Linked DNA regions of Homo sapiens: regions 2 and 3 are each linked to region 1. The links come from fine-mapping of genetic effects on gene expression. A gene starts in region 1. Each other region holds a variant in brackets. All regions are shown on one strand. Distances are between the middles of the regions.

Region 1 (8,181 bases):
GACAGACTCTTGTTCTGTGACTCAGGCTGGAGTCTAGTGGTAAGATCAGCTCAGTGCAACCTCCGTCTCTACAAAAAAAAAAAAATACAATAAAATAAAACTGCGGTGGAGGATGGCAAAGGGTTGCGATACTTACAGCCATAAGGCTGGCAGTTCAACAGGGTAGGCCCAAAACTTAGAGGCTGGGAAAGTCAGGTGACCCCTTGCAAAACACTGAGCCACCAGGGGAAAGAAGCCAGGAGCCACAGAACCCAAAGTGCCCCTTACCTTCCCTTCCTTGATCAGGTGTTTGCACTGCAAGAAGTACCAGTACGGGGTGTTTCTCCGGCCTCGCCATAATTTGGGCTCCGGTTCCATTTGCTCATCTCTCCGTTCCCCAAACCGCAGGTTATGGAACTGGGCTGCGGATTTGCGGAATAGTCTCCGGGAGGAGTATTTGTCAGAGAGGGTCCCAAAACTCTCCTCCTCCTCCTCGTCTTCTTCCTGCGTGGCCGTGGAGTTGGAGTGGCTCGGGTCAGAGCCCAGGCTGCCCGTGTTTTCCTGACGCTCCTGGCCGAGGGGCAGCTGAGAGGAGGAGCTGCTGAAGGGCGCCCACATTGGCCGCATCAGCCCCTCCCTGCCTCCTGCCCACCTGGCTCTACAGGGGTCCAGGTGTTGCAGGATGAACAGTCCCATGGGGCGGGCCCTGGCGAACAGTCGAGCGAGTCTCACGAAGTCCATTTCTGGCTTTCCTGTCCCTCCAGGGCCTGGAATATATCAGGAAAAATAAGAGAGTCAACTCAGTTCCTAGTAACAAAAGGCAGAAAGAAAGAAGTGGTTACAAGTATGGGCCCAGGCCAGGCGCGGTGGCTCATGCCTGTAATCCCAGCACTTTGGGAGGTCGAGGCTGGCATATCACTTGAGGTCAGGAGTTTGAGACCAGCCTGGACAACATGGTGAAACCCCGTCTCTATGAAAAATACAAAAATTAGCCAGGCTTGGTGCTGTGCGCCTGTAATCCCAGCTACTCAGGAGGCTGAGGCAGGAGAATCACCTGAACCTGGGAGATGGAGCTTGCAGTGAGCTGAGATTGCGCCACCATACTCCAACCTGGGTGACAGAGTGAGACTCTGTCTCGAAAAAAAAAAGAAAAGAAAGAAAGAAAAAGAACAGGCCAGGGGCGGTGGCTCATGCCTGCACTCCCAGCACTTTGGGAGGCCGAGGCGGGCAGATCAGTTCAAGACCAGCCTGGCGACACCCCATCTCTACTAAAAATACAAAAAACATGAGCTGGGTGTGGTGCTACACGTCTAATCCCAGCTACTGAGGAGACTGAGGTAGGAGAATCGCTTGAACCCAGGAGACGGAGCTTGCAGTGAGCTGAGATCGCGCCACTGCACTCCAGCCTGAGTGACAGTGAGACTCTGTCTCAGAAAAAAAAAAAAATAATAATAATAAATAAAATAAGAAGTATGGGCCCAGAGGTTAGAAAGCCTAGGTTCAGGTCAGACATAGCTCACTGCAGCCCCACCCTCCTGTGCTCAAGCGATCCTCCCATTTCAGCCTCCCGAGTAGCTGGAACTACAGGTGTGAGCCACTATGCCTGGCTAATTTTATTTTTTGGTAGAGACAGGGTCTTGCTATGTGCCCAGGCTGGTCTTGAACTCCTGGACTCAAGCAATCCTCTCGCCTCGACCTCCCAAAGCACTGGGATTACAGCAATGAGCCACCATGCCCAGCCTAAAGTATTTTAGAGTCTGGTTATATTAGAAGGTTGCGATTGGAAAAGTCTTACAAGTGATGGCAGATTGAACAGATTAAAAACTAGGCCCAGTAGGTCAGGAGCGGTGGCTCACGCCTGTAATCCCAGCACTTTGGGAGGCCAAGGTGGGTGGATCCCCTCAGGTCAGGAGTTCGAGACCAGCCTGACGTGGTGAACCCTATCTCTGCCGAAAATATAAAAATTAGCTGGGCGTGACAGCGTGCCCCTGTAATCCCAGCTACTTGGGAGGCTGAGGCAGGAGAATCACTTGAACGTGGGAGGCAGAGGTTGCAGTGAGCCAAGATCGCGCCATTGCACTCCAGCCTGAGCGACAGAGCAAGACTCCATCTCAAAACAACAACAACAACAACAAACAAAAAACTAGGCCCAGCAAGGGGAGAGACTTGCTGGGGTCCTGCAGCAGTGCAGTGGGTGAGACTGGCCAGCTTGGGCTGGGCTGGCTTTGAACTCAGGTCCATGTAACGCATTGATGATTGTCCTGACCAGCACCTTTTGTGAAACTAGTGCAGGGGGCCTTTATCATTCTGCATCTGGCAAGCCCTGCCACTCCTTCTTACAAGCATGGTGTTTATGTAATTTTCTTTTTTGTGGAATGGGGTCTTCATGTTGCCCAGGCTGGAGTGCGATGGCACAGTGGAGTGCAAATGCACAATCACTGCAACCTCCAACTCCTGGGCTCAAGTGATCCTCCTACCTCAGCCTCTCAATTAACTAGCACTACTGGTGCACACCACCATACCTGTCTAATTTTTTGTATTTTTTTGTAGAGATGGAGTCTCCCTATGTTGCCAGGCTGGTCTAGAACTCCTGGCCTCAAGCAATCCTCCAGCCTTGGCCTCCCAAAGTGTTGGGATTGCAGGCGTAAGCCTCCATGCCCTGCCTTACGTGCATTAATTACAATACACAGAATTACAAAACAAAAAGCAATGATATTGAAATGGCATCAAAATGCTTTAAAAACAAATTTCTGCTATACTAGTATAGATGCTTATTTTCAATGCATGAAATAACAAGACCCTATCATAATTTCTTTTCTTTTCTTTTTTTTTTTTTGAGACAGTCTCTCACTCTGTCCTCAGGCGTGACCTCGGCTCACTGCAATTTCCGCCTCCCGGATTCAAGCGATTCTCCTGCCTCAGCCTCCCCTGGAGCTGGGACTACAGACGCATGCCACCAAGCCCAGCTAATTTTTGTATTTTTAGTAGAGACAGGGTTTCACCATGTTGGCCAGGATGGTCTGGATCTTTTGACCTTGTGATCCGCCCGCCTCGGCCTCCCGAAGTGCTGGGATTACAGCCGTGAGCCACCGCGCCCGGCCGACTCTATCATAATTTCAAAGCAGTAATAAATGTAAGTGACAGCTTAAGATACCACCTTGTAGTTGCTGCACAAACTGGGTTTTTTTGCGTCTCACTCTGTCACCAGGCTGGAGTGGGGTGGTACAATCTCGGCTCAATGCAACCTCTGCCTCCCGGGTTTAAGCCATGCTCATGCCTCAGCCTCCCAAGTAGCTGGGATTACAGGAACGCGCCACTACTCCAGGCCAATTTTTATATTTTCAGTAGGGACGGGGTTTTGCCATCCTGTCCAGGCTGGTCTCGAACTCCTGACCTCACGTGATCCTCTCGCCTCAGACTCCCAAAGTGCTGAGGTTACAGGTGTGAGCCACCATGCCTGGCCCTGCACAAACTGTTATCTGGAACTATCATTTACACTCACCCTCACAGTTTCAGGCACTGCTAAGGCTGCTCCAGCAATCAGGAAAGGAAATGCTATACTTCACATAGAGAAAAATAGGGGTGCATTTTGTTCCTACACAAGCTCATTACCCCACCCTGGTTAAAAAAAACCCTGAATTAGGCTGTATAGTGGCTCATGCCTGCAATTCCAGCACTTTGGGAGGCCCAGGCAGGAGGATCGCTTTGGGCTTGGGGCCAGGAGTTCGAGACCAGCCTGGGCAACATAGCAAGACCCGCCACCCGCCCCCCCAACCCCGCCGTCTCTACAAAAATTAAAAATAAAATTTTAAAAATTAGCCAAGTGTGGTGGTGCAGCGTCTGTAGTTCCAGCTACTCGGGAGGCTGAGGTGGGAGGATCGCTTGAGTCTGAGAAGTTGACTGCAGTGAGCTATGATCGTACCCCTGTACTCCAGCCTGGGCCACAGAGCGAGAAAAAACCCTGAATTAGAGACACGCTGCGGCCGTCCTTCCTCGGAGAGACCCGCCCCTCCTCAGAGGCCCACCCGGACCCTCAGGCCAACGCCGACCCCTCTCCACACGGACTTCTGCAGCCTCAGTTTCCCTCCTCAGACGCCCCCGGCTCCAATCCCGGCTCGGGCACTTCCTTCCCCTCTGGCGTGTCTTGGCCCGGGTCCCGGGGCTCCTGCGAGGATCACACAGGAACTCACTTGAAGTGTCCGGCGCAGTGCACTCCGACGGGGAGCCCTGCCCGGTCCCCGCGGCGAACCAGTCTCTTCCTCGGGTCCCCCTCTCCCCAAGCGCGCAGGCGCAATCCGCGTCGCCGACTCACGCGGCTGGTTTCAGGTTTCTGGCGAGGCCGGTGTTCGGCTGGCGGCTAGCTGGGACTAGCGGAACGGCGGAGTCTCGATTGGCAGTGCCTGGACAGGCGCAAGGGCCGGCGCGGGCTCCGGGCGCTCCCGGCATCCCTCGGGCGGCGGCGGCGGCGGCGGCGAGGCGAAGCGAAGGAGGAGTGTGTGCGGCGGGGCCGGCGGCGGGTAAAGGCGAGAAGGCTGCAGGAGACCGAGGGGGAGCCGGGCCGGTGGGGCCGCCGCCGCCGCCATGCAGGAAATCATCGCCAGCGTGGACCACATCAAGTTTGACTTGGAGATCGCGGTGGAGCAGCAGCTGGGGGCGCAGCCGCTGCCCTTCCCCGGCATGGACAGTGAGCGCGGGGCCCGGGCGGGAGGGCAAGAGCGACTCGAACCCGGGACCCGCTCCTCTGTGATCCCGGGACTCCCTCGCCTCGGTCCTGAGACCTCCCCCGGCTTCCTCTGGATCCTGGGACCCCTCCCCTTTGGTCGCAGGACTCCTCCCTCTAGGTCTTGAGAGTCCCTCCCACCTCCTCCGGGTCCTGGGATCCTCCCCTTTAGTTACCGAACTCCCTCATCTGTGGTCCCGAGACTCTTCCCACTCCATCCTGAGACCTCCTCTTCTGGATCCCGGGACGCTCCCCTTGGTTTCAGGACTCCTGACTCCCAGGCCCCCATTTCCACCGTCTGGGGACTCCTTTTACCCTCACTCGGACTCAGGAGTTCACTGCCTCGGATCTTTGGCCCTCTGCGGCTGTTCAAAGGTAATCTGTAGGAGGGTAGACCTTGTCTGTTCGCTTAATTCTTGAATAAGGGTGGGTTATCCTGGATTGGAACTCTCCCTCAACACTCTCCCAACTGCAGGAGAGTACTAGGATATCACACCCGCTACGTTGAGCGTCTCTTCTTGATTTCATCAAAACTAGGCGGTTGGAGGAGATGTGCTGAGGGAAGGACCACCTTTCTGTAGGAGACCCCAGCTAGACTCTCAAACTCCCTTCTAGGACTCACTCTCCTGGGAGCTCATCCCTAGTTTTTGGCCCGTCCCTACTTTTTTCTGGACCCCAACTCTGAGTTATTCATCACACCCAGCAGCTGGTGTGGACCCTTGGCCTGAACTCCCTTCACTGCTCCCCTTCATATGGTGGCTCCTGGCTTCCCACCTCCTACTCGGTGGGATATCTTGTACTTTAAAAGAAACCAGTAGTTTTCTTTGTGTCTTCTTTCCTATCTGGACATACTTGAAATCTAATGCTATAACCTTAAAGTTTGGGGGCTTGTGGAAGTCACTGAGTTCAATCCACAGATGGGGAAACTGAGACCCAAGCGGGGGAAGGGACTTGCTGACAATCACTCAGTGCATAGCAGAGGCGGGCAAGCTCTCCAGTGTTGTGTGCTGTCGCCCACAACTACCAGCGGGGTCTCCCACCGCTCCCAGCAGCCTCACTCCCCTCAGGCGGTCACACCTTCTCATGCACATGTGACCTCTGAGTCTGTCCCTTTATGTGTTTTTGTTGTTGTTGTTTGTTTGCTTTTGAGACAGGGGCCCCTCTGTCGCCCAGGCTGGGTGCAGTGACGCAATCATGGCTCAATGCAGCCTCGACTTCCCAGGCTCCAGCAATCCTCCCACCTCAGTCTCCCAAGTAGCTGGGACCACAGGCATGCACCAACACGCCTGGCAAATTTTTTTGTGTGTATTTCTTGGTAGAGACACTATTTCATCATGTTTCCCAGGGTTGGTCTTGAACTCCTGGGCTCAAGTGATCCTTTTACCTCGGCCTTCGGAAGTACTGGGATTATAGGCATGAGCCACTGCACCTGGCATATATATATATATATATATTTTTTTTTTTTTTTTTTTCCTGCCTGTCCCACAACTTTACATGGTGATAGTTCTGTACAAGATAGTTTCATTGGAAATTAATTAAGTCTTCAAGAAGACAAGATAGTGCTTATAAGGAGACATCATCAGACCACCCTATTTGACACAGGCACAAACACCATCACCACTGTACACTCCCTAAAAAGCAGCTGCTCAAATTCACACACACACACCCCCTCTTACCTACCCCTCGACTCTTGTGATCATCCCTGCACATGTGGCCTTTTCCTGTCTTTTTTTTTTTTTTTTTTTTGAGACAGAGTTTTGCTTTTGTCACCCAGGCTGGAGTGCAATGGTGCGATCTCGGCTCACTGCAACCTCCACCTCCCAGGTTCAAGCAGTTCTGCTGCCTTGGCCTCCTGAGTAGCTGGGATTATAGGCGCCCACCACCACGCCCAACTAATTTTTGTATTTTTAGTAGAGATGAGGTTTCACCATGTTGGCCAGGCTGGTCTTGAACTCCTGACCTTAAATGATCCACCTGCCTCGGCCTCCCAAAGTGCTGGGATTACGGGCATAAGCCACTGTGCCCAGCCGGCCTTTTCCTGTCTTGATGGCACTAGCTTGAGACCATGGAACCACCCACGCAGGGCAGCTCTTTTCCTCCCACCCTTCTGCCATCTGACACATCCACAAGCCTGTGAGGGGAGGTACAGTGGCGAGGGGCCCACATACCTGTTCCTGAGGCCCGGGACACACCTAGCCATGGGTGTTGCTCCAGCCAGGGCTTCAGAGTCGGTAGGCACCCTCCACACTCGCTGCTTGTCCATATCCTGTTCAGTTAAAGCCTAGTGAGGCCACAGCCCTTCCTCACCCATCCCTCCTCTTCATCCCCATCTGAGTTTTGGGAAGAACTGTCACTTTGCCCATAAGGCATACTCATCCTATCCACATGAGACTCAGTTCCCAGAACTGTGTATTTCTGAGCAGAAGCAACTCTAACCTCTAAAGAGAGAGACCAGAAGTACTTTCAGAATTTTTTTTTTCTTTTTTTTTGAGACAGAGTCTTGCTCTGTTACCCAGGCTGGAGCACAGTGACGCGATCTTGGCTCACTGCAACCTCTGCCTCTGGGTTCAAGTGATTCTCCTGCCTCAGCCTCCCAGGTAGCTGGGATTACAGGCACGTGCCACCATGTCTGACTAATTTTTGCATTTTTAGTAGAGATGGGGTTTCACCATATTGGCCAGGCTGGTCTTGAACTCCTGATGTCAAGTGATCCACCCGCCTCAGCCTCCCAAAGTGCTAGGATTACAGACGTGAGTCACCGCACCTGGCCACTTTCAGACTTTTTGAGATGCAAATGGAGTGACCTCCCTGTGACAGCCATAAGTTCTATAACCTCAGCTGTGTCCTAGCAAAATCTGCTTGCTTCCAAGAAGCCAAGGAATCTTTTGTGATTTAGCAAGGGGAGGCATGTTAAGTGGGCTTCAGAGATGCTGTCATTGGTTTTTCAGCAATTCTAAAATGGTTACTTGTAGAGGAAACTGTTTCTGATGCCAAGGTCAGTTTAGTCTGGCAGCTGGGGCTGGTGAATTCCTGGACTCATCAGAACAGCTGGTCCCTGGAGCCCACTGAATTCCAGCACACTCCGACTGTGGGAATGAAAGGCTGTGCTTTTTTTTTCTTTTCTTTTCTTTTTTATTAACAAGCAACATAATCGGCCGGGCGTTGTGGCTCACACCTGTAATCCCAGCACTTTGGGAGGCCGAGGCGGGCGGATCACGAGGTCAGGAGATCGAGACCATCCTGGCTAACACGGTGAAACCCCGTCTCTACTAAAAATACAAAAAATTAGCTGGGCAAGGTGGCGGGTGCCTGTAGTCCCAGCTACTCGGGAGGCTGAGGCAGGAGAATGGTGTGAACCCCGGTGGGGCAGAGCCTGCAGTGAGCCGAGATCACACCACTGCACTCCAGCCTGGGCAACAGCGAGACTCCGTCTCAAAAAAAAAAAAAAAAAAAACAAAAAACAAGCAATATAATCAAAAACA
Region 2 (8,181 bases), 300 kb after region 1:
TGTTCAGGGCATGTGGCAAGCACTAAATATTAAAGAATCAAAATCCTTGTCCTGATGAAGCTATCTCTCTAATAGGACAAAGAGATACTAAACAGTGACAAAAATAATACTGAATTACAAATTGGGAAAAATGCTATGAAGTAAAAGAACCCTTTACTTAAGCTCCCAGTGATATCAGACACAGTTGATCCTTCTTTCTTTCCTTAAACTCTCTCTCTCTTTGAAAGACATGAATACAACAGAATCAACAAGACTTGACAGATGGGAAGTGTGAGACCTTGGATATTCCTGGATCTGTTTCCTCATCTGTCCATGGGGGAAATTGACCAGAATTGGCCTATGAAGACCAAGGTCCTCCTTGTCCCAATCAGAAGACCCCTGCAGGACTGCCTGCCTCTCAGCCTCTGTGTCCCTCTAGGAGTTTTGAAGACATTCCCTGTCCTCTATTCTCATTCTCTTATAGATCACTTAGGGTCCACCAGGTCTTCCAGCCCAATCAAAGACCAACAGCTCCTACAGGCAGGAGAAGAGCAAAGGTGGGATAGGATGCAACTGGGAGAAGATAACCACCCATTTAGGCCCTGAACTTTAAATTATGGATGGGTTTCTTAACTGAGATTGCAGTGAAAGGGTTTCACACATTCTCACACCCACTCACACTCAGCTTTTACTCAAGGAAATGATAGTGAATACGTGTCATGCTAAGTATTTACCCTGCATTAACTGATTCAATCTGTCTAACAACCCATGGTATTGATGTTGTTATGATCCCTATTTTACAGATGAGCAAACTAAGCCACAGGAAGGTTAACTGACCCATCCAAGGTTACGTCACTAATTGCTCTAGCAGAGCCAGGATTCATATGTAGATTCTGTAGCTGGAGAGCCCAGGGTCATAATCTTTTGACATAAGCCCAGCCTTGCCCAAGGACACACAGAGTTAGTGGGGAACTAGCAATGCAGCTCAGGCCTTCTGAATGGGTAGTGGCCAGAGCTCTGTCCCATATGCTGGGACAAAATGAAGTCCCAAAGCAAACTTGTCAGTGAGGACTGGGGTGAAGCAATGTCCTTTCTTCTCCCTGCCTGCCCTTGCCCTGAAGTATATGCACTTCTGTAGACTTTACAACAAAAAAGAAGAGGAGCTCTCTCTCTCCTGCCACCTTGTGAAGAAGGTGCCTTCTTCCACTTTGCCAACTGCCATGATTGCAAGTTTTCTGAGCCTCCCCAACCATATGGAACTGTGACTCAATTAAACCTTTCTTTGTAAATTAAAAAAAAAGAAGAGGAGGAGGACTTAATCATAACTGTTTTCTTTCTACTCTATTCTGGAGTGTCTATTTCTTGATAAAGTAACCACCAACATCTCCATGGCACTTCATAATTTATACAGTTCTTTCCCAACTCTCCTAATATCAGCAAGAAAACTTTGTAAGATGAGTAGTATTAGGATGATTTAACTCATGCTTTATAGATGTGGAAACAGATAGTTAGAAATAGACTTCAGACGTGACTAAGCCATGAAGCCAGGGCATGGAGCAGGACATTGTGATTTCAAATTGCATCAGTGGTGTTCTTGCTGGGATTCCAAGAAGGCTCCTAAAACAACTTGGCAGGTTGTGTCAGCCACACATGAGATAAATATTTCTCTCTACACCTCCCAGCACACTGCCAGTGTAGTTATAAAATGCTACAGAGCTGGTTATGACCATGAAAACAACATGTGCATCCTACACTTTACTAAATTGTGTATTCAGTGAGCTCATGTTTCAGCAGAAAGGGGAATGTTGCAAATAATTCTGACATGTCACAATCAGAATCATTTGTGTTTCCAGGAAAGCAAAAAGTAAAAGGTGATGAAACCAACATGTAAAAGAGAAATCAAAGAATATGAGGCAAATTTCAGAAGAGCACGTGGAAGGGAATTAATGAAACAGGAAATTGGTGAAGGAAATGAAGATTGTCATGAGATGTGTTACAAAACATCAGCAAAACCTACACCATTTCTCATACTCCTTATTTCAGTAACCTCCTAGCTTCTTTTGCCTACCCTGGGCAGTACTTATCCAGGGAATTCCCTACTCAGCCACCAGACAGCATCTCAAAAAACATGGAATCTTAAAGCATGCTTCCTTGGCTTCAGTCCCTGCAACTGTTCCTATCACTCACAGGATAAAATCTAAGTATATCTAGGAAGTAACACAAGACCCTTTCTCATCTGGCCACTGTTAGCTTCTTCAGCCTGTCTCAGTCCACTTCTCCAACTGTACACGGTGTTTTAAGCAAATGGTGCGATTGGCTACTCCCCAGGCTCTGCAAAAATGATGTGTTCGTGTCTCCTTGTGTCCACACAAGCTGTTCTTTAGCATAGACTGGGTCCAACCCAGCTTCCATCTGGTGCATTCCTAACCATCCTTCAGGAGTCAACCAGGGCATCATCTCCCCAACAAGCCTCTTTCATGACCACAGCAAGCAAATGCTGGAGAGGGTCCCGCTGGTGCTTTCTCACAGTTTTAACAGCTGGACACACAGTGGCTGTCATCCCGGGATGCTCACAGAATTCACATGCATGAGGAGCTTTTAAAAACCACAGATTCACTGTGTGTGGAGGCACAAAACTGTAATCTCAGCACTTTGGGAGGCTGAGGCAGGCAGATCATGAGGTCAGGAATTTGAGACTAGCCTGTCCAAGAGATCACAATGGCCTATATTGTAAAACCCCGTCTCTACTAAAAATACAAAAATTAGCCAGGAGTGGTGGTGGATGCCTGTAATCCCAGCTACACAGAAGGCTGAGGCAGGAGAATCACTTGAACCCAGGAGGTGGAGGTTGCAGTGGGCCGAGATCAGGCCATTGCACTCCAACCCCAGCCTGGGAGACAAAGCAGGACTCCAACTCAAAAAACAAACAAACAAACAAACAAACAAACATAAAACCCACAGGTTCCTGGGCCTACCAGAAATGAGAAAGGGTTGCCTAGGAGCCTAACAATGAGGAGGCAGGGACCATTGAGGGCCATCTGGAGAGACTCCAAAGTGTCCCATCAATCCAGTTACATGAAAAAGAAGGCATCACACCCAACTCATTCAATGAGGGCCACATGATCCAAATCTGAAAAAAATCAGGACCGCAAAGGAAGATGACATGCCAGTCTCATTCATCGGCATCAGTGCAAAAATGCTGAACACAATAGTAGCAAGCCAGAGACAGGAGTGTTCAAAGATGATACACCATGACCAAGTTGAATTTAAACCTGAGACTCAAGAATAGTTAACAGAGAAAAAGTATAAATACCAATGATCTCATCAACAGATTAAAGGAGAAT[G/A]ATTATAAGATCATCTCAATTGTTTTAGGAAGAGCCTTTGCTAGTTCAATAATAATATATTAATAATACATGATAATATTCAACTCCCATTCATGATATAAAAAACCTTCAACAACTAACAGCAGTGAATTTTATTAATCTGATGAAAGCATCTACCAAAAAAAATTAGAGAAAACATTATTCTCAGCAGTATAAAAGCATTATCCTCTTATACCTTCTTGTTTACCATGTGCACAAATTACCTTTCCAAAACTAGTAACATCTTTAAAAAATCCTATCAGTTAACTTACTTTTTCTGTAATTGAAAAGAATATCATAGCTTGTCCTTGTCAGAAGTCCAGCTTGTGATTCACCTGGGGTCAGCATAGGGCAAGGTTTAATAAACACTGAAATAACTAAACATTGTAATGCCTCATGGGGCTGCTTGAACTGACATGATTTCAAGGGCACTGAGAGGCTGGGGGAAAGCAGAGGGTCAGCAAGTTCATTCAGCTGAGATTATCTCAGTTTACAAACTGGAGTTTATGAACTTTAGTTGGGACATGAGTTTCATTGATTATTGGAATGAACCATCTCTCGAGAATAAACCAGCATCCAGCATCGGGCATGAAGTTCCAAGAGGACCCCAGGGAGAGATGTTACTAGGAAGCTTGCCAAATCCTGTGACTTTCCAGGGGGCCTGCCCACCCAAGTGCAGCCCATGCCTGACACCCAGCCCTCAATGCCCTATTCTGATCAGTTACATGGTTATCTCCAGAACCATGGGGCCCTCTCTATCGGTGTGAATGGGTTGTCCACTCTGCCCAGTGCTGTGACACAACACAGGGGAACAGAACCATAAGGGAAAATGTGAACAAGACCTTCAAAGAACGAGTCATGCTGAGACCCAAGGTGGGGGTACTTCACCACACAGAGGGAACTGGGGAGACACCAGGAGCTCTGGGAAGGCAGAGATAAGGGGATCTGGAACTACCTGGTGTGAAGTATTCCTAAAGGAGAGACTGTCTGCATTATCATCAACAGAGAAGTGTTTGTATAGAAGAGGGGAAGGTGAGAAGCATTTCAGGCTGTGAGAATGGTTCAGCTTTTTTTAGTAATAAAAAAATAGAGAAAGTAGAAATTGCTTTTAACTTTGTGTATTGAATAAGTAAGGAATGGCGTCCCAACCGTTTTCTTTATTATTATTATTATTACTATTACTATTATTATTATTATTGTTTAGACAGAGTCTTGATGCATTGCCCAGGCTGGAGTGCAATGGCACAATCATGGCTCACTGCCACTTCAATCTCCCAGGCTCAAGCAATCCTCCTGCCTCAGCCTCCTGAGTAGCTGGGATGACAGGCATGCATCACCATGCCTGGCTAATTTTTTGATGTTTTGTAGACATGAAGTCTGGTCTTGAACTGACTTGTCTAGGATGGTCTTGAACTTGTGGCCTCAAGTGATCCTCCTTTCTCAGCCTTTCAAAGGACTGAGATTACAGGAATGAACCAGAGGCCAGCCACTTTATTATTAACAAGGTTCAATATTTCTGGATTTTTGATAGCTGTGTTTCTTCTTTGATAAAATGTTCATGTCCACTCAGCTCTGCACCCAGTGGACTGAATAGACATCTACAGAACTCCACACCCCAAATCAACAGAATATACATTCTTCTCAGCATCACATCACACTTATTCTAAAATTGACCACATAATGGGACATAAAGCATGCTCAGTAAATGTAAAAGAATGGAAATCACAACAAACTGTCTCTCAGACAACAGTGCAATCAAATTAGAACTCAGGATTAAGAAACTCACTCAAAACCACACAACTACATGAAGACTGAACAACCTGCTCCTGAATGACTACTGGGCAAATAACAAAATGAAGGCAGAAGTAAAGATGTTCTTGAAATGAATGAGAACAAAGACACAACATACCAGAATCTCTGAGACACATGTAAACCAATGTGTAGAGGGAAATTTATAGCACTAAATGACCACAAGAGAAAGCAGGAAAGATCTAAAATCAACACTGTAACATCACAATTCAAAGAACTAGAGAAGGAAGAGCAAACACATTCAAAAGCTAGCAGAAGGCAAGAAATAACTAAGATCACAGGAGAACTGAAAGAAATAGAGACACAAAAAACCCTTCAAATAATCAGTGAAACCCAGGAGCTGGTTTTTTGAAAAGATCAAAAAAATTGACAGACCGCCAGCCAGAATAATAAAGAAGAAAAGAGAGAAGAATTAAATAGATGCAATAAAAAATGATAAAGGGGATATCACCACCGATCTCACAGAAATACAAACTACCATCAGACAATACTATAAACACCTCTACACAAATAAACTAGAAAATCTAGAAGAAATGGATAAATTCCTGGACACATAAACCCTCCCAAGACCAAACCGGGAAGAAGTTGAATGTCTGAATAGACCAATAACAGGCCCTAAAATTGAGGCAATAATTAATAGCCTACCAACCAAAAAGTCCAGGACCAGATGGATTCACAGCTGAATTCTACCAGAGGTACAAAGAGTAGCTGGTACCATTCTTTCTGAAACTATTCCAATCAATAGAAAATGAGGGAATCCTCCCTAACTCAGTTTCTGAGGCCTGCATCATCCTGATACCAAAGCCTGGCAGAGACACAACAAAAAAAGAGAATTTTAGACCAATATCCCTGATGAACATTGATGCCAAAATCCTCAATAAAATACTGGCAAACTGAATCCAGCAGCACATCAAAAAGCTTATCCACTACAATCAAGTGGGCTTCATCCCTGGGATGCAAGGCTGGTTCAACATATGCAAATTAATAAATGTAATCCATCACATAAACAGAATCAACGATTAAAAAACCACATAATTGTCTCAATAGATGTAGAAAAGGCCTTCGACAAAATTCAACAGCCCTTCCTGCTAAAAACTCTCAATAAAGTAGGTATTGGTGGAACGTATCTCAAAATAATAAGAGCTATTTATGGCAAAACCACAGCCAAAATCATACTGAATGGGCAAAAACTTTGAAACCAGCACAAGACAACGATGCCCTCACTCATGACTCTTATTCAACATAGTATTGGAAGTTCTGGCCAGGGCAATCAGGCAAGAAAAAGAAATAAAGGGTATTCAATTAGGAAAAGAGGAAGTCAAATTGTTCCTGTTTGCAGATGCCATGATTGTATATTTAGAAAACCCCATCGTCTCAGCCCAAAATCCTTTTAAGCTGATAAGCAACTTCAGCAAAGTCTCAGGATACAAAATTAATGCGCAAAAATCACAAGCATTCCTATACACCAATAACAGAAAGAGAGCCAAATCATGAGTGAACTCCCATTTGCAATTGTTACTAAGAGAATAAAATATCTAGTAATCCAAATTAAAGGGAGGTGAAGGACTTCTTCAAGGAGAACTACAAACCACTGCTCAACAAAATCAAAGAGGACACAAACAAATGGAAGAATGTTCCATGCTCATGGATAGGAAGAATCAATATCGTGAAAATGGCCATACTTCCCAAGGTAATTTATAGATTCAATGCCATCCCCATCAAGTTACCAATGACTTTCTTCATAGAATTGGAAAAAAAACTACTTTAAATTTCATATGGAACCAAAAAAGAGCCCACATTCCCAAGACAATCCTAAGCAAAAAGAGCAAAGCTGGAGGAATCACGCTACCTGACTTCAAACTATACTACAAGGCTACAGTAACCAAAAGAGCATGGTACTAGTACCAAAACAGGGATATGGACCAATGGAACAGAACAGAGGCCTCAGAACAAACACCACACATCTACAACCATCTGATCTTTGACAAACCTGACAAAAACAAGCAATGGGGAAAGGATTCCCTATTTAATAAATGGTGCTGGGAAAACTGGCTAGCCATATGTAGAAAGCTGAAACTGGATCCCTTCGTTACACCTTATACAAAAATTAATTCAAGATGGAATAAAGACTTAAATGTAAGACCTAAAACCATAAAAACCCTAGAAGAAAACCTAGGCAATACCATTCAGGACATAGGCATGGGCAAGGACGTCATGTCTAAAACACCAAAAGCAATGGCAACAAAAGCCAAAATTGACAAATGGGATCTAATGAAACTAAAGAGCTTCTGCACAGCAAAAGAAACTACCATTAGAGTGAAAAGGTAGCCTGCAGAATGGGAAAAAATTTTTGCAATCTACTCATCTGACAAAGGGTTAATATCCAGAATCTACAAAGAACTCAAACAAATTTATAAGAAAAAAACAAGCAATCTCATCAAAAAGTGGGCAAAGGATATGAACAGACACTTCTCAAAAGAAGACATTTATGCAGCCAACAGACACATGAAAAAATGCTCATCATCACTGGCCATCAGAGAAATGCAAATCAAAACCACAATGAGATACCATCTCACACCAGTTAGAACGGCGATCATTGAAAAGTCAGGAAACAACGGGTGCTGGAGAGGATGTGGAGAAATAGGAACACTTTTACACTGTTGGTGGGACTGTAAACTAGTTCAACCACTGTGGAAGTCAGTGTGGCGATTCCTCAGGGATCTAGAACTAGAAATACCATTTGACCCAGCCATCCCATTACTGGGTATATACCCAAAGGATTATAAATCATGCTGCTATAAAGACACGTGTACCCGTATGTTTATTGTGGCACTATTCAAAATAGCAAAGACTTGGAACCAAGCCAAATGTCTGTCAATGATAGACTGGATTAAGAAAATATGGCACATATACACCATGGAATACTATGCAGCCATAAAAAAGGATGAATTCATGTCCTTTGTAGGGACATGGATGAAGCTGGAAACCATCATTCTCAGCAAACTATCACAAGGACAAAAAACCAAACACC
Region 3 (8,181 bases), 130 kb after region 1:
TAAATTTAGGAAATAGGCATTTAGGCTAGTGCCAAGAAAACTTACACGTTCTTTCTGTGTGTAATTTGGAGGAAGGGATGGATTTTGTTCACAGTCATTATTTATTTTTTTTCAGGGCTTGTTAGGAGGCAAAATCATAATTTTTTTTTTACTAGCAGATTGTTTAAAGGCTAGGTTCTGAAATAAGACTGTGCAGGTTTGAAAACTAAGCATTACCAGTTATTGTAACCTTGGGCAAGCTACTTAACCACTCTGAATCTTAGTATTCCCATCTGTAAAATGGCTATAATAATAGTTTCTACGTTTTAAATTTATGGTATTAAATGAGTGAAAACCTAGAGAGCTCTTGGCATGGTACTTTGCACCTACCAAGTACTTAGTAAAACTTAATAATATTTTGATGGTACTGATGATACCCTGTTCTCTCTTCTAAACTGTGATATTGTATCTTTACCTGCTAGGCATTTTCTCTTTTAAAAAAAATTATTTCAGTAGTTTTGGGGGCGTACAAGTGGTTTTTTGTTACATGGATGAATTCTAATACATAGTGGTGAATTCTGAGATTTTAGTGCACCTGTCACTGGAATAGTGTACATTGTACCTAATATATAGTTTTTTATCCCTTGTCCCTTCTCCCACCCTTTCCCTTCTTAGTCTCTGAAGTCCATTTTATCACTCTGTATGCCTTTGCGTACTCATCTGCTGGGCATTTTCTCTTATACCTTCGTACATTACATTAAACACACATCTAAAATCAAACCCCTCATCCCACATGAAGACCACCTTTTTTGTTGTGCATATGTGTTTTAAGTGTAGATATGGAGTAAGCAGCCAGAATTTATTTCAGTTACCAAATATCGACAGACACTTTAAATATCTCAGAGTTAAAAGTTGCAAATTATGTTATTGGAATTCTGAGAACAATATTGATTGCTGCTTCATGTTACACTAACTTTACTTTTTAAACTTCTGAAACGATTTCATTTGACAGGGTGGACCTTAATTAAATATATGTCCACAAGGAGAGTTGACTCTAAATGTCCCACAGGATTTCAGAAACACAGTAAATACCTTTCTTCTATCTATTCTGATCTCCTTGCTCATAGGCTCTCACATGGAATCTTTGGGGCAGCTGTCAGTTCTTCATATTTTCCAGCCCCAATGCCCTTTTTATAAAATTGGGTAGCTGTTAATACATTGATACTTGGGCGCACAGAGTTGGCACTCAATAAGTAGCCGTTAAGTAAATTAATCAAAAGAATTGCAAGATACAAGATACCTGGTCCCTTCTATCAAAGAGTTTATAAATCAAGTATGAATGACAATACCTGAAACCACTTAAAAAAAAATCTATGTAAACACCGTTATATGTGACATGTCAGGATAAGAGGGAACAACTAATAAATTTTGTACACATTCAGTAAATGGAGAGAAAGGTTTTTGGAGATGAGGGGCTTGAGCCAGACCTTGTATGTGTGCTATTAGAAGCTTTCTGGGCTGGACACATTTAAAAACTGCCCTTTGATACTAATAGTATTAAAATTCTGTCTCCTTGGAAGCAGACTGCCTGTTGCTTTAGCTTTAAAAGAGATTTATATCCAAGCATTGCATTATGCAAGCCATAGAAAGACTGTTTTATGTGAAGATGCACTGATTGCACTTCCCTCTCTATATTTTATTGTAGTTAGTTGTTTAGAGCTGTCTCTGTGTAGAGTGTGAGGTCCTTGAGGGAAGGGACCTTCTTGGCCTCTTATCCCCTGCATACTTTGCATAGAGGAGGCACTTCATAAATGTTTGTTGAATAAATGCTACACTCCTAATGGGTAAGAATGTGTCATATTACTCTTTGTTTTCTTATGTGTACTGAAACAAATTGTTTCTTGAGATTGGTCCTTAGAATATTTATTCAGTTTTCACTGATTCTCTTGCTACAGGTTAGCTAACCATGCAGCAGGTGCTTGAGTTTCACCTTTCTCCAGTCCAGCAGAATTACATTTTGATGACCTCCATTTTGATACTTGTAGACCAGATCTAATCCGAAGATTAATCTTTAGGTAACAGATGGAGAGTGATAATGATAACTTCTGTGAAGACAAACCCATGCACACATTCTGTTGTCTGAATAATATTTAAATGAATCCTTCTGCTCCCAAGTCATCAACTTGCCCCTTAACACACATCCCTCTAGAGCACAAATCTGAGCTCCTTGTAGATCTTTGCCCTCTTCACTCTCCAGACCTTCCTAATTAATGTCTTCTCAGAATCGACCTTCTGTCTCTCTTAATCATTAGTTAAAAGAAAAAGTGGCAGATGTAGGACCTGGGGATACATTGCCACATCCCATTTCCTTCTCTATGAGCAGGATTTCCAATTTCCAAGCCTGATGGGATCTCCCAGCTGGAACAGGATCTACAGGTCTTTGATCTGGAAACTAAGACTAGAGAAGTCTTAAGAGATGACTGCTCAGGTGAGTAAGGCAGAATCAGATAGAATTAGTAGGGAAGTAAAGTTCAATTGTTGAGCCAAGTTGTAGCTGCTTTGGCACTCAGAATGAAGAGCTCTGTGTGTGTCCTAGCATGGAGAGTTCCTTCCTTTTCCCTTCAGTTAGGTTGACCCTTTCCATTTGTTTAGTATCCGTGCACATGTCGTACTAGACCCCAATCAAGTTGCTTATCTAAAATTCTTTCAGCTGTTTCCCTATTATTTCCTTACTCTGCTGAACATGTCCGCTGTTTTACCTCACTGCTCCTGTTTATGCCCTTAACTTCTGCTGTTGAGATTTTGTGCCTGTTTTTCAGAGTAAATAAACTTTTCTTGTCCTTGTAGATACTACATTGTTTAGTTTTCTCATCTGAGTTTTCTTTTCCTAAGCACAGGGTACAGATTACATTTGCATTTTCTATTTATATATTGTATCAGATGGAGAGACCAGAGAAGAGAACAAGCTGTTGATTCCTAAGCAGAAAATTTCGGAAGAAGTGCATTCATACAAAGTGAGAGTAGGAAGACTCAAACACGATATTACCCAAGTTCCTGAGACTAGAGAAGTGTATAAGTCTGAGGACAGATTAGAAAGACTTCAGGAAATTCTAAGGAAATTTCTGTACCTGGAGAGAGAGTTTAGGCAAATAACAATCAGCAAGGAAACCTTCACCAGTGAGAAGAACAATGAATGTCATGAACCCGAAAAAAGCTTCAGTCTGGACTCTACTATTGATGCAGATCAGAGAGTTCTTAGAATACAGAATACCGATGACAATGATAAGTATGACATGAGCTTCAACCAGAATTCAGCCTCTGGTAAACATGAACACTTAAATCTAACAGAGGATTTTCAGAGTAGTGAATGTAAGGAAAGCTTAATGGATCTCTCCCACCTTAATAAATGGGAGAGCATCCCTAACACTGAGAAATCCTATAAATGTGATGTATGTGGGAAAATTTTCCATCAGAGCTCAGCCCTTACTAGACATCAGAGAATCCATACTAGAGAGAAGCCCTACAAATGTAAAGAATGTGAAAAGTCTTTCAGTCAGAGCTCAAGTCTTAGTCGACATAAAAGAATACACACTAGAGAAAAACCTTACAAATGTGAAGCATCTGATAAATCCTGTGAAGCGTCTGATAAATCCTGTAGTCCAAGCTCAGGCATAATTCAGCATAAGAAAATTCACACCAGAGCCAAATCTTACAAATGTAGCAGTTGTGAAAGAGTCTTCAGTCGTAGTGTCCACCTTACTCAACATCAGAAAATTCACAAAGAGATGCCCTGTAAGTGTACTGTATGTGGCAGTGACTTCTGCCATACTTCATACCTACTTGAACATCAGAGGGTCCATCATGAAGAGAAAGCCTATGAGTATGATGAATATGGGTTGGCCTATATTAAACAACAAGGAATTCATTTCAGAGAAAAGCCCTATACGTGTAGTGAATGTGGAAAAGACTTCAGATTGAATTCACATCTTATTCAGCATCAAAGAATTCACACAGGAGAGAAAGCACATGAATGTAATGAATGTGGAAAAGCTTTCAGTCAAACCTCATGCCTTATTCAGCATCACAAAATGCATAGGAAAGAGAAATCGTATGAATGTAATGAGTATGAGGGCAGTTTCAGTCATAGCTCAGATCTTATCCTGCAACAAGAAGTCCTCACCAGACAGAAAGCCTTTGATTGTGATGTATGGGAAAAGAACTCCAGTCAGAGAGCACATCTAGTTCAACATCAGAGCATTCATACCAAAGAGAACTCATGAATGTAATGAAGATGGGAAGATATTTATCAAATTCAGGCTTCATTCAGCATCTGAGAGTTCACACCAGGGAGAAATCATGTATGTACTGCATGTGGTAAAGCCTTCAGTCATAGCTCAGCCATTGCTCAGCATCAGATAATTCACACCAGAGAGAAACCCTCTGAATGTGACGAATGAAGAAAAGGTATTAGTGTTAAACTCTTAATCGACTCCTGCAAATCTATACCAGTGAGAAATCTTA[C/T]AAATGTATTGAATGTGGCAAATTTTTCATGCTATTAGTATTTTCATACCTTAGTCACATTTGGAGAATTCACATGGGAATAAAATTCCATTGCTGCAATGAATGTGAAAAAGCCATCAGTCAAAGAAACTACCTTGTTTAGTATCAAATTCACGCCATGCAAAAAGATTATAAATGTAATAAGCATGTATGTGTGTGAGGAGATTCAGTCATAACCCAACGCTCATTCAACATCAAAGAATTTATACCTAAGAGAACTTATTTGGGTGTAGTAAATGGCAGATCTTTCAATAGGAGTTTAACTAGTCTTTGTCATATCAGAATATCCATAGTAGACAAGAATTTGATGTAACGCAAATGGAAAAACTCGACACCACATTTCAGGCTTTACCCAACATCGAAATAATGGAGAGAAAATTGTTGATTATTTGTTTATGAAATTGTTAATACATAGTCCCAATCTTTTTCATTGCACAAAAATCTAGGGTTGACTTGGTAAATGCAGTGACATTTTCTCATGGAGTTCCTTTATTTAATATGTATTCTAAGTAGGTACGTTTATTTTTACTTTTTTATTATAATTTTGATATTAAAAAGAACAGAGATGGGGTCTTGCTTTGTTGCCCAGGCTGGTCTTGAACTCCTGGCCTCAAGCGATCCTCCCACCTGTCCTCCCAAAGTGCTGGGGTTACAGGCGTGTGTCACTGTGCTGGGCCTATTTTATTTATAGAACTCATTTAAGCTGTTTTTATTTTAATATGCCCTATAAACATTTTTATATTTTTTGAAATTGGTTCTTAGTGTTCACAACTTCCATAAGATACTGCTAATGCACCAGTATTAAAACACATCGACGTAAGTAGCTCATTTAGCTTTTTCTGCTGTTCTTGGCCCAAGTTCTTTCCAAAACCAACTCTTAGGCCTGCTCTTTACTAGGGATCTTATGTCGTATTGCTTTACAGCCACAACACTTGGATTCCTGTTGATTAACTTCTCCATTCTCTTAAGCACCTTTAGAAGATTTAGAAGTTTCCTAGTTTTAAGTGTTTCACCAGCAAGTATTCCATACCTACTTGATGTTGCTGGTCTGGTGTCTTATTTCCTAAAGTGAAGCATCTTTTTTTAAAAAAGAATTTGATTGACAATATATCCAGTCCAATATAAGTATGAAGGATTCTCTCTCCTGAGATTGTAGCAGGCAGCCAAACATTTTCAAATGATGCCCAAGGTTTTAGCTGTCTTGTGTGCATCCACAGTCTGCGAAGAAGACATGATAAGGACATCAGGGAGCCAACAAGACTCCTAATAGCCTCACTACATTCATCCAGTGCCTATTCTGCATGCCTAAGCTTAGAGTTCTTTTATATACCTCTACGGCCAGCAAAATGCTCAGGTCTGCTCTTGGTAGGGTAAACATAAAGAAGATACACAGGCCGGGCATGGTGGCTCACACCTGTAATCCCAGCACTTTGGGAGGCTGAGGCGGATGGATCACGAGGTCAGGCAGTCGAGACCATCCTGGCCAACATGGTGAAACCCCGTCTCTACTAAAAATACAAAAGTTAGCCGGGTGTGGTGGCACGCGCCTGTAATCCCAGCTACTCAGGAGGCTGAGGCAGGAGAACTGCTTGAACCTGGGAGGCGGAGGTTGCAGTGAGCCGAGATTGCACCACTGCACTCCAGCCTGGGCGACAGAGCAGGACTCTCTCTCAAAAAAACACAAAAAAACAAAAACAAAAAACCATACACACACACACACACACACAAATCAGCATCATAAGGGAATGTAGCCTTCCAACAGAGATGATGCTGTTCGTATGTTAATCTCAGAGACAGTATTTCAAGAGAGTGGCAGGTCTGTTCCTGGTAAAATTTTAACCATTAGGATTGCAGATAAATGTTTGAATTCTGCTCCTCTCTCATCAATCCAGGACAGTATTTGAAGTGTGAGGGCTTTGTGTATAGTTGTTTATCCATTACCACATTTTTGTATTTTAATAGTCTACAGGCTATATAAAAGAACATGGCTTTTTGACTGATAAAAGTGATTACAGATGTTGGCTCAAGTTCAGGGCCACCATCATATACCTAACAAGAGTTCATGATTCTTTAGGTAATGTCAAAACATTTTGTATTTTTCCATCTTAAGCTTTATAACATTTTGTGAGTAAGACAAATGTTATTTAAAATTCTTGTTGTCAGTCCAGCAATTGAGGCTTTCATAGTTCAGTGTTATAATATTCAGTAGGGACCCTCAACAAATATATAAAAATATGTTGCTCACTCTATAATCCTCCTATGGCTAACCTCTAGGATAGTTCTGCCACTATATTTTACTTCTTTGCCATCAGCAAGAGTAGGATTTCATCAAGGCAAGGTAGGAATCTAAATGAAATTGATATATAAATGAATTGATCTAAATGTAAAAGCAAATGAAAAATGCATGTGTTTTTTCCTGTCAAACATGTATACCCTTATGTATAGAGACCAGTAGTCACGTATGGTGACTGAAACAGGATTATGTAATCCCTAAAAAGCAGAATATGTAAAAATCACATGTATGCGTTTGGTTTAGGAATGTGCTTTTGTACTTCCACTTGAATAAAGGTGTGTTTGGTATTCTGAGAATTTGTTTCAAACAAAATCTGAAGGTCTCAGACAGAAGCGTTTGGGAATGTTGGAATCACATCTCTGGCTGCAACTCCTTTCCTCCCTGGAACTTGCTTCACAGCAAGAATGGATCACTTTCCTTTGCATTGATAACAAAGCTTGCTTTTCCACAGACCTCTGGAACAAAAGCTGAATGTTTGGGACTTAAAGGGGATTTGATTGGGAAGTTGTTGGTATATAAAATAAGACTAAATAGTTCGAGGTTTCAGTAGAACTAGGAATAACTTTTTGTTTGTTTGTTTGTTTTTTGAGACAGTCTCGTTCTGTCACCCAGGCTGGAGTGCAGTAGCGTGATCTCGGCTCACTGCAACCTCCGCCTCCTGGGTTCAAACGATTGTCTTGTGTCAGCCTCCCAAGTAGCTGGGATTACAGGCACCTGCCACCTTGCCTGGCTGATTTTTGTATTTTTAGTAGAGACCGGGTTTCACTGTGTTGGCCAGGCTGGTCTCAAACTCCTGACCTCAGGTAATCTGCCTGCCTCAGCCTCCCAAAGTGCTGGGATTACAGGCGTGAGCCGCTGTGCCCAGCCATATTTTTTAAATAAGTAAAACACTTTAAAAAAGGCGGACTCAAAATAGTCCTTTAGGGCAATCCTTTAAGCAGATATTTAATTGGCCTGATACATGAGTTTGTGTTCTGAGTCATTTTGGTCTTGAAAGGGGAGAGAAGAGAAATACGATAGTAGAGGGCACTTTTATCTTCTGTCTTTCCACCTACCTACACACACGTATGTTTGTACATATCTAAACTTTATTCTCAATTCTGCAAAGCAGCTAGCTTCATTTTACAAAGGAATATTTTAGTAAACATACCCCAGGCCAGGTGCAGTGGCTCACGCCTGTAATCTCAACACTTTGGGAGGCTGAGGCGGGCAGATCACTTGAGGTCAGGAGTTGGAGACCAGCCTGGCCAATGTGGCGAAACCCAGTCTCTACTTAAAATAGAAAAATTAGCCAGGCATGGTGTTGCGTGCCTATAATTCCAGCTACCTGGGAGGCTGAGGCGCAACAA

Direction of the effects. Alleles are on the strand shown, and positions count from the first base shown. SD is a standard deviation of normalised expression in the study named.
As copies of G replace A in region 2, the expression in tibial nerve of the gene that starts at base 4,421 in region 1 goes up (small effect, 0.23 SD a copy in GTEx).
In carriers of allele C in region 3, the expression in esophagus mucosa of the gene that starts at base 4,421 in region 1 tends to be higher than with T alone (small effect, 0.26 SD a copy in GTEx).

The links.
Region 2: its variant is fine-mapped to the expression of CPSF4 in tibial nerve (GTEx, PIP 0.99).
Region 3: its variant is fine-mapped to the expression of CPSF4 in esophagus mucosa (GTEx, PIP above 0.99).

Annotation. Positions count from the first base shown.
Region 1 is chr7:99,434,523-99,442,703 of GRCh38, forward strand. CPSF4 (cleavage and polyadenylation specific factor 4) reads left to right here and starts at 4,421. Exons shown (of 8, transcript NM_006693.4): 1 at 4,421-4,663. The coding sequence starts at 4,561. It overlaps ATP5MF-PTCD1 (ATP5MF-PTCD1 readthrough), which reads right to left. Exons shown (of 9, transcript NM_001198879.2): 3 at 268-746. PTCD1 (pentatricopeptide repeat domain 1) reads right to left here and starts at 4,276. Exons shown (of 8, transcript NM_015545.4): 1 at 4,170-4,276; 2 at 268-746. The coding sequence starts at 720. It also overlaps the pseudogene LOC100131859. RefSeq lists silencers at 770-917, 4,416-4,715 and enhancers at 2,044-2,569, 3,866-4,155.
Region 2 is chr7:99,739,103-99,747,283 of GRCh38, forward strand. No RefSeq gene overlaps it. Among named protein-coding and RNA genes, the nearest start is that of CYP3A7-CYP3A51P, 8.0 kb to the left of the region's middle. RefSeq lists enhancers at 646-1,158, 998-1,016, 2,341-2,359 and a cis regulatory region at 3,575-5,403. The variant G/A (reference allele first, on the strand shown) is at 3,324.
Region 3 is chr7:99,569,326-99,577,506 of GRCh38, forward strand. It overlaps ZNF655 (zinc finger protein 655), which reads left to right. Exons shown (of 3, transcript NM_138494.3): 3 at 2,920-7,128. The coding sequence ends at 4,259. Among named protein-coding and RNA genes, the nearest start is that of ZNF655, 15 kb to the left of the region's middle. The variant C/T (reference allele first, on the strand shown) is at 4,501.